Regions from separate parts of the Homo sapiens genome. Here region 2 is linked to region 1. A link means that fine-mapping ties the variant in region 1 to the expression of a gene that starts in the linked region. Tissue or cell type: whole blood. Region 1 holds a variant in brackets; the other region holds the start of a gene. All regions are shown on one strand. Distances are between the middles of the regions.

Region 1 (4,852 bases):
TTTTTAGTAGAGACAGGGTTTTGCCATGTTGGCCAGGTTGTTCTCAAACTCCTGGCCTCAAGTGATCCTCCCACCTTGGCCTCCCAAAGTGCAGGGATTACAGGCGTGAGCCACTGCGCCTGGCCAAGGTCTGCATTTTTTAAAGTTCCAAGGTGGACCGTACACACTAGAGTTGAGAACCGGTGCCTCATCACTTTGCACATGTGGTTCCCTTCGCCTGGAATGCCCTTCCTCCCTCTTCCTCTACCTCCCTGAGCTTCAGGCTCTGCTCAGACATCTTCTGCGTGATGTCCTGTTCCAATCTGGGTGCCCTCGAGGGCCCGGTGCTGCTTCTTCCCTGGCCCACTTTACACCCCATTCCTTTTTTTTTTTTTTTTTTTTTTTGAGACGGAGTCTCACTCTGTCGCCCAGGCTGGAGTGCAATGGCGTGATCTCAGCTCACTACAACCTCCACCTCTCAGGTTCAAGCAATTCTCCTGCCTCAGCCTCCCTAGTAGCTGGGATTACAGGGGACTGCCACCACGCCCAGCTAATTTTTTGAATTTTTAGTAGAAACGGGGTTTCACTATGTTGGCCAGGCTGGTCTCGAACTCCTGACCTCAGGCAATCCACCCGCCTCAGCCTCCCACAGTGCTAGGATTACAGGCGTGAGCCACCGTGCCCGGCTTTACACCCCATTCACACTGGTGGTTTACCTTTCCAACTCATTTGGTATTTTCTGTGTGCCGGCACTGCTGCGTGTATTAACTTATTTAGTCCTCACAACATCCAATGATGTAGGTCGGTCCTAGTTGGGGAAATGGAGGCACGGAGAGGTAAATAACATCGCCCAGCTAAGAAGTGGTTGACCCACAGAGGTTGCACCAAGGTACTGTGAGGCCCAGGGTGGCTGTTCTTTAAGGGCAGGGACCTCGTGGGATTCATTGTTGCAGGTTGTCAGTGCAAGCATGGGGCCTGGCATCTAGGAGGTACTCGGTTTCCTCATCTGTAGGATGGGCTGAAGGATGGGAATTCTCTCTCAGGGTTTCTCTGTAGCTTGGGGACTTGAAAGGGGTTATGAGCTCTAAGGTGCTTGGTGTGGATGGGAAGTGGTGGCAGAGGCTCCTCTCTGGGTTTTTGGTTTTTTTGTTTGTTTGTTTGTTTTTTAACAGGATTTTGCTCTGTCACCCAAGCTGGAATGCAGTGGCACAATCATAGCTCACTGCAGCCTCGAACTCCCAGGCTTAAGCGATCCTCCTGCCTCAGCCTCCCAAGTAGCTGGGACTACAGGTGCATGTCACCATGCCTGGCTAATTTTTTTTTCTTAATTTTTAGTAGAGATGGGGGGGTCTCACCATGTAGCCCAGGCTGGTCTTGAACTCCTGGACTAAGTGATCCTTCCACCTCAGCCTCCCAAAGTGTTGGGATTACAGGCGTGAACCACTGCGCCCAACCCTCTCTGGGATTTTAGGGTGGAATAGTTTCCCAGACAGGAGGCCTTTTCCCTCCTCCACCATGCTGTGGTTCACCCTGTCCCACAGAAATCAGCCCCTTTGAGCCTGGCCTGGGGCTGGGTACCCTGATGGAGATTCTCGGATGATGGCAGAGCAGAGTGGAGACTTGGAGAGGCCACTGCTGCACCAGGAGCTCCCACTCCCGATCCGACATTAAGGGGCTCACCTGTTCCCAGGGCAAGGAAGACCTCCCTTCAGCACCCCTGCCATTCCTACCTCCCACCCACCATCCCTCAGGAGCCGTGGGTTGTTGTCAATGATGTTGTAAATTAGCTGCTTAATTAACTATTTAGGCTAATCAGATTAATTGACATTAATTGGTTACCATTTGTCAAGGACCTTGAAAAGCTGTGCTCCTCAGAGTTGAAGTGTGTGACTGGTGCCGGGCAGGGGAGTCGGGGAGGAGCTGTCACCATGCTAACAGCTGGGAGTGTGCAGGTGGCAGGCAGTGGCAGTTCCAAGGCCACCAGGACCGCTGCTCAGGGACTGTGCACCTCCTGGCACCTCTCAGGGAGCCCCAACTTCTGAGTTCTGGCCCCTCACACCTTGGGAAACACATCAACTCTTCCTCTCCCTTAGTTGTTTAAGGAAAGGTTTGGCAGGGACCAGTGGGAAGACTGAGAAACTTTCCTTTTTGTAAAAAGAAAAAAAAAATAGAGATGGGGTCTTGTTATGTTGCCCAGGCTGGTCTAGAACTCTTGATCTTAAGTGATCCTCTTACCTCAGCCTCTCAAAGTTCTGGGATTACAGACATGAGCCACTGTGCCCAGCTGGGAGACTTTCCTTCCTCCATCCCCAAGGGCTGTAAAGACCTCAGAGGGAGAGAGATCTTAAAATTCTAAATAAGTCATGAAATAAGTAGGTCACCACATAACAACTGCTAGGATGACGTGCATATATTCACTCAAAAAAAAAAAAAAAAACAGGAAAGATGAGCAGTATAGGGTAGATAAAATATGCAAAATATTAAACTGTGATAAAAT[G/A]ATCAGATTTGCATTATTTAGTCAATTACAGCCCCCAAAACCCACAGTACATTTTTATGCCTGTTTTAAAGCACAACTAACAGTTTTAAATTATAGCACTTGAAACAACAACAAAAAAAACTACTATGAAATGCATCCTACGTTTTGGGAAGAGAGAAAAAAAAAGCCAACCCACTGAAAAATGGGAGTGTGCATTTGTCTTTAGAGACATTCTCTGAAGATTAAATGGCTCCCATATTTAGTCCAATACTGGGCTGGGAGTTAGGAGCCCGCAGTTTTTTTTTTTTTTTTTTTTTTTTTTAGACAGGGTCTGGCTCTGTTGCCCAGAATGGAGTGCAGTAGTGTAATCATAGCTTACTACAGCCTCAACCTTCTAGGCCCAAATGATCCTCCCACCTCAGCCTCCCGAGTAGCTGGGACTACAGGCGTGCACTACTACACTGGCTAATTTTTTTATTATTATTATTTTGTGTAGAGTCAGGGTCTTGCTATGTTGCCCAGTCTGGTTTTTTTTTTTTTTTTTTTGAGACAGAGTTTCACTCTTGTCGCCCAGGCTGGAGTGCAATGGCATGATCTCAGCTCACTGCAACCTCTGCCTCCCAGGTTCAAATGTTCTCCTGTCTCAGCCTCCTGAGTGGCTGGAACAACAGGCATGTGCCACCACACCTGGCTAATTTTTTTTTTTTTTTTTTTTTTGAGACAGAGTCTCACTCTGTCGCCCAGGCTGGAGTGCAGTGGTGCGATCTTGGCTCACTGCAAGCTCCGCCTCCCGGGTTCATGCCAGTCTCCTGCCTCAGCCTCCCCAGTAGCTGGGACTACAGGTGCCCACCACCACGCCCAGCTAATTTTTTTTTTTTTTTTGTATTTTTAGTAGAGACGGGGTTTCACCGTGTTAGTCAGGATGGTCTCGATCTCCTGACCTCGTGATCTGCCCACCTTGGCCTCCCAAAGTGCTGGGATTACAGGCGTGAGCCACCGCGCCCGGCCCACATCTGGCTAATTTTTTGTCATTTTAGTAGAGATGGGGATTCACCATGTTGGCCAGGCTGGTCGTGAACTTCTGACCTCAGGTGATCCCCCAGCCTCGACCTCCCAAAGTGTTGGGATTACAGGCATGAGCCACCATGCCTGCCCCCATGCTGGTCTTGAACTCCTGGGTGCAAGCAGTCTTCCCACCTCGGCCTCCCAAAGTGCTGGGATTACAGGCGTGAGCCACCGTGCCTGCCCCCAGGCTGGTCTTGAACTGGGTTCAAGCAGTCTTCCCACCTTGGCTTCACAAAGTGCTGGGATTACATGCATGAGCCACTGAGCCTGGACAGGGAGCCTGCAGTCTTATCTTGACTTTTCCACTGAGTCCTTGAGGGTCCCTTCCTTCTCTGAGCCTTGATTTCTTCAATGGCGAGTCCCTGGCCTGTCTTCCTGAGAGAATGCTTACATGGAGCAGAGGAGGAATGGATTTCCAGTACACTGGAGGTGCATACAAATGTGAGGAGAGAGAAGAGGTTCATTTTGGTGGGAGGGTCAGGCTCTCAACATGGACAGGGGAATTGCTTTCTGGGGAGGAGAGGTTCCCAGGTTGGTGACAGAGGTTTCTAGCTTGGGAGGGGATGACATGGAGAGTGAATGTGGGGTCTCTCCCTCTCTCCCCTTTTACTGTCCAATTCTGCAGCCCCTCGGGGGAGGAAAGACCGGGAGAGACTGGAGGCTGTTGCCTAGCAACGAGAGGCGCATCTGGATCGATGGGAAAGTCAGTGATGCTCCAGCCCCCAGCCCGACTCTCTCTTTGATCTCAGCCGGCCCAGCAGAAACCTGAGGGGATGCCCCCCAGGCAGCCAGCTTGATTGGAGCTGAGTCAATAGAGGGAATGTTCCATAATGAGATTGTATGGGCAGTGGAGGCAGCTGCCTGTGGCTTCTCCTGTCACCCTCCTCAGCAGGTGGAAGGGGCCGGACTGTCTGTCCAGCACACACCCTTCCTGCTGATAGCTCTGGCCTGGGTAGGGGTAGGGTAGGGGTACACATCACCATCCAATTTTGATTCTTGTTAGTCTTGCACTTCCAGGGACTCAGAGCCCAGCTCCCCCTGTTAGGTTTTGAAGGGAAGGCGAGGATTATAGAAAGACACACACACAGAAAGAGCACGGCTCAAAAGCAAATGCAGCTTTTGTTTTGTTTTGTTTTTTGAGATGAAGTTTTGCTCTTGTCCCCCAGGCTGGAGTGCAATGGTGTAATCTCTGCCCACTGCAACCTCCTTCCCCCAAGTTCAAGCGATTCTCCTGCCTCAACTTCCCGAGTAGCTGGAATTACAGGCGTCTGCCACCACACCCGGCTAAGTTTTGTATTTTTAGTAGAGACTGAGTTTCCCCATATTGGCCAG
Region 2 (4,852 bases), 220 kb before region 1:
CTCAGCCTGTACTGGGCCCAGGGAACATTTGCTGACTATAATGACCAAGAGGAGGCAGCACCCGGCTTCAGGAGTGGCTGTGAACTGAGCTGGGGGTGGCGGTGGGGGCCCTCACCCATTCTTCTTAGGCAAATAGGCCTCCATGTCAAAGAAGAGGCCTTGGCGCTCTTTCATCTGGTTCTCCAGCTCCTGTGCGGCCCCCTCGGCCTCTGCTGGGAGGGAGGGTTTGCATCTGCGGGTAAGGCCAGAAACAGTCAGGGCAAGAGGACTCCCAAGTGTCCTCCCTGACTCCCACAGGGGCAGAAGGGCAAACAGGGCCCAGAGAGGGGAGGGGCGGTGCCCAGGGTCTCACAGCGCCAGCCCTCCCACCCCACACTCTGCCCATGGCGGGTGGGGTAGGGGATCCTAACTTCTTCAGGGCGAGGGCCAGCTCCTGGAGCCGCTTCTTCTGCCGCGTGATGGAGCTGGTGCAATTGTTCTGAAGTTTGGTCAGCTCCTCCAGCTTCAGGCGGTAGAGCCGATGGGTCTCCTGGGGGCCGGAGGGGAGAGGCTCAGGCCAGTTGGGGAGCTACTGAGCCAGAGCCTGCAGGCAGGACGTGGCGCTCAGGCTCCCCCAGGGCTGCTGGGAGGGTTTCGCTCAGCGGGAAAGGAGGTAGAACTGTGCCTGCCCAGGGATGAGGTGGCTGTCTCCCCAAGGCAGGCAAGGACCTGGGTGTCCTCCTGTGAGCCCAGAGACCCCCACAGCACCCCTCCTCCAAAAACAGACTAGGTGTTTTTGTTTTTGTTTTTGTTTTGAGACAGTCTTGTTCTGTTGCCCAGGCTGAAGTGCAATGGCAGGATCTCAGCTCACTCCAACCTCCGCCTCCCGGGTTCAAACCATTCTTCTGCCTCAGCCTCCCAAGTAGCTAGGATTACAGGCACCTGCCATCATGCCTGGCTAATTTTTGTATTTTTGTAGAGACAGGGTTTCACCATGTTGGCCAGGCTGGTCTTGAACTCCTGACCTCAGGTGATCTGCCTGCCTCGGCCTCCCAAAGTGCTGGGATTACAGGCATAAGCCACCGCACCCAGCCAAGGTTTTCTTAGTCTCAGCCCATCTGCTAGTTGTCCCCACCCTACAAGGACAGACTCTTTCTCCTACCTTGAGTCTGGAGCTTAGGCCCCCAGGGCCACCTCCTGGACCAAGCAGGCAGCCCAGAGCCACCCCTCTATCCTCTCAGCTCCTCCTGCCTATCTAGCCTTCCAGTACAGGAGGAGCTCAGGTTCTCAGGAATCCCTGACATCTTCTTCCCAGGTTAAAGGTCATCAGGTTTCAACCCTAGAGCCTCCTGCTCTAAGGCCAGCCCCACTCCCTTCCCCTAGCACCTTTGGCCCAAGGATTCCCCAAGCACTTTGCCCTGGTAGGTGAGTCTCAAGAAGGCGCAGCCTAGAGATGGGGCAAGGGGCAGTGTGAGGAGAGCCAAGCAGGGGCTGTGGCCAGGACAGCGGCGGCCAGGCGGGGAGACTGGGTCTGCTCAGTCTCTGGGGAGAAGCACCAATGGCAGGGGCCTTGGCAGGGCCAGGGGCAGCTGGGTTTCAATGCCCACAGGAAGCAGTTGGAACCAGTCCAGGAGAGGCCAAGGGCTAACCAAGCCATCAGCTGGCCAGGGCTCTACTCTGTCTGGATCTTGTTTCTCATGCCCAGGAGGGGTCACCACGCCCCCTCGGACCCCAGCACGTGCCACTTCTGCCCACCCACAGCCACCGCCCTCTTCCCTGCCTGGATGAGGCCAACAGCCTCCTCCTCCCTGGCCTCTGGACAGAACAGCCACGGTGGCCCTGGGGAGCTCAGTCCAGACAATTCCTCCCGTAGCTTTCCACTGGCCTCGGAGGGACTCTGATCTCTGCCAGGCCAGAGCGTCCCTGCAGGGCCTAGCCCCGCCCACCCCTCCCACCCGTCCCACCCCTCCCCTGGTTCTCCTTGATGCAGCCACATGGGCCTGTCAAGTCCCCTCTTTCCTTCCAAAGGCCTCGGCGGCGCGCGGTATCCCTCTGCCTGGGGCGTCCCCCATCCAGGCCGAGGACACCCCCCTAAACGCTGCTCCCCCGACCTGGGCTGCCTCTCGGGCGCTGCCCGCTGCGCGTTTGCTGAGTGGCTGACCCAAGGCTGGGCCCGCCCGTGTGTGACTCAGGCGGCCGCTCTCTTCTGGGAAGGGACGGGGTCGGGGTCTGGGCCCCTTTCCAAGGCCCTCATTGGAAGCCGAGGTCGCCCAGCGCGATGGGGTCCCGCCGGGGTTCCCGGACACTGGAGGTGGTGGCAGTGGACACCAGGACCAGGGGCCTCGCCCCCCTTGGCAGTGACGCCAGGGCCCCGACCCCTGACCCTTAGCTCCCCACTGCCTGACCCAGGGCTGCCCGACCCTTGACCCTGAGCCAGCGAGACGCGGCTCGGGGGCGACCCGGCGTCCGCAGCGGCGCTAACCTGGATGTTCTGGAAGTCCTGCTGTAGATCCTCCCAGTCCCGCAGGCAGTCGCCCAGCGGGCCCGGGGGCGGGGGCTGCATGGCTGCAGCGCCAGTAGCCAGTAGTGGAGGACGGCGCAGCAACCCCGGCCCACCCGAGGCTCCTCCGCCACCGCCCCCGTCCGCTTCCGGGCTCGCGCCGCCACGGGCACCAATGGGGAAAGGCCACGCCCCCCACCCCAGCCAATCCGGGACAGGGGCGGGGTATGGGCGGGGCCGTATGCAAGGGCGGTTGCTAGCCCCGGGACTCGCGGCCTGGACCGGGACTGGGACGGCTGCAGCCCCCGGGCCTGGACTGCACTGACTGTGCCAGCCGCGTGGTGCAGCCAGCAGGGCTCTGGCCCGTCATGCTGAGAGCAAACCAAGGTGCAGGGAGGTGACACCTGCTTGCAACATTTTCGTCCTTGGGAAGCTGAGCCTCTTTGGGGAAGGGAGTTAGAGCTGCTTCTCTCGCTTGGATTTTTACAGCGGCCTCCTTTCTCCCTGCCTCACCTCCACTGTCCCTTCTCGCGGCCACCGGACTGCCCTTCCCAAAACACAAGGCTGATTCCCCATCATGTTCATGCTTAAAACTTTCCAGCGGCTGTGTCCTGCCTACCAGGAGGTCCCTAATCGGAGCTCTGCAGCCATCCCGGGCTCTGTCCCAACTCACACCCTGAGGAAAGCCAGGGCTGTGTGTAAAGCCGTTCCCCCTCTGGCAAAACCCCACTCCTCCTTGAAGGCCTGCCCTTCTGTTGAGGGGAATCCCCCACCCCCTCCCACCCCCATCCCTCCACAGAGCGCGCTAAGTGGTGGGACGGCATTCATCTCTCTGTTCCCAGCCCCACCCACGCGGTGGCAGGGAATGGTTGCCGAATGGACTTGGGGAAGGTCCTGCATGGATGGACATCCTAATCCCCTACCAGTCCCCTAGTCTGTGCCGTCTCCTGATGCCCAGTTTGTTCTGTGGGTGCTGCCAGCTTTGGAGAAGTGCATTTGGAAAACAACTTCCAACTGGGTGCCGTGGCCCACACCTGTAATCCCAGCATTTTGGGGAGGCCGAGGCTGGAGGATCACTTGAGCCCAGAAGTTCGAGACCAGCCTAGGCAACAGAGCAAGACCCTGTTTCTACAAAAATAAAAATAAATTAGCCAGGTGTGATGGTGCATGCCTGCATTCCCAGCTACTCACTCAGGAGGTTGAGGTGGGAGGATCGCTTGAGCCCAGGGAAGTTGAGGCTGCAGTGAGCCATGATTGCGCCACTGCACTCCAGCCTGAGAGACACAGCAAGACCGTGCCTCCAAAAAAAAGGAAAGGGGGTAAAAAAAAGGAAAACTTTTAAGACCTTAGGAATTTCTAGAAACGTGGATAGGGAGATGGGGGAGGGGGTGAGAATCTCTCCTTGGTGAACACAGCCAGGCAGAAATGAGTGGGGAGCAGGGAAAGAAAATCTGTTTCAAGGGGTGGATGGCAGGAAGCGCTGGGGATGAGGCAAGGGTGTGATCCCATTCTAGGAGCCTGGGGGCTAGACAAGGCTGGGCTTGGTATCTCTGGGACTAGGGGACTGCCTATTGGTGGCTATTGTGACATCCTCTGTGAACCAACACAGGCAACCTCTGGGTACCCCCAGGCAGCCTCCAAAGGGTCTAAGTCACCAGGGGGATGCAGGGCAGCTGCTCTAGCAGCCAGATGCTCTTCCAGAGGCAGCCTCAGGGGTGCAGTTGGGATGGCCCGCGACACCTCAGGGATGCGGGTTCTTGGTGAACCTGAGCAGGGCGCATCAGCTAGGTGGCGTGAACAGGCACTTGGGAAGAATCAGTACAGGAGGCTAACATGAGACTTTCAGGCAGCAAAGGCCTTCTCCTTCCAGACAAGCCTGGGTATACACACTCTGGCCCTCCACCCACAAAATGCCCCCAGGTGAGGCTCTTCAGTACCCTTCGGTGGGCCTCGGAGAAGATCAGTAGAGCGGATCCATGATGTTTGTGATGGAATCTCCAAGGATAGTCTTCTCCCATTCCAGCAGCTGGCTCACCAATCCCCGATTTGGACACATGTTGTTTTTGCACTTCTTGACATAGGCCCAGGACCTCTATGAATACAAAGAGAGAAAGTGAACTTCACGATTGGTCCTGGGCCCTTTCCACTTGGATCAGAGGCAGCTTTCAGAGACAGGAGGCACTTGCACAGTGCCAGCAACACGGCTTAAGGGCTGGATGCAGAAACAGGGCAGCCTGGCATGAATGCATCAGTGCTGGGAGTCATGGGAGCTGACTCTGCCTTGGGCAAGCCCCTCTGCTTCTAAATCTGGTGACAGAAATAATTCCTATTTCAAACAGCTTCTGGGAAGATTAAGACAATATACATGAAACC

The links. PIP is the estimated chance that this variant, and not a neighbour inherited with it, causes the effect.
Region 2: it holds the start of TMEM120A, and the variant in region 1 is fine-mapped to the expression of TMEM120A in whole blood (TOPMed, PIP 0.98).

The regions. Positions count from the first base shown.
Region 1 is chr7:76,212,644-76,217,495 of GRCh38, forward strand. The region is part of intron 1 of SRRM3 (serine/arginine repetitive matrix 3); the gene reads left to right. Among named protein-coding and RNA genes, the nearest start is that of SRRM3, 13 kb to the left of the region's middle. The variant G/A (reference allele first, on the strand shown) is at 2,477.
Region 2 is chr7:75,992,029-75,996,880 of GRCh38, forward strand. TMEM120A (transmembrane protein 120A) reads right to left here and starts at 2,567. Exons shown (of 12, transcript NM_031925.3): 1 at 2,462-2,567; 2 at 411-529; 3 at 116-232. The coding sequence starts at 2,542. STYXL1 (serine/threonine/tyrosine interacting like 1) reads right to left here. Exons shown (of 9, transcript NM_001317785.2): 9 at 4,314-4,571. The coding sequence ends at 4,440. RefSeq lists an enhancer at 48-107 and silencers at 2,289-2,348, 2,359-2,808.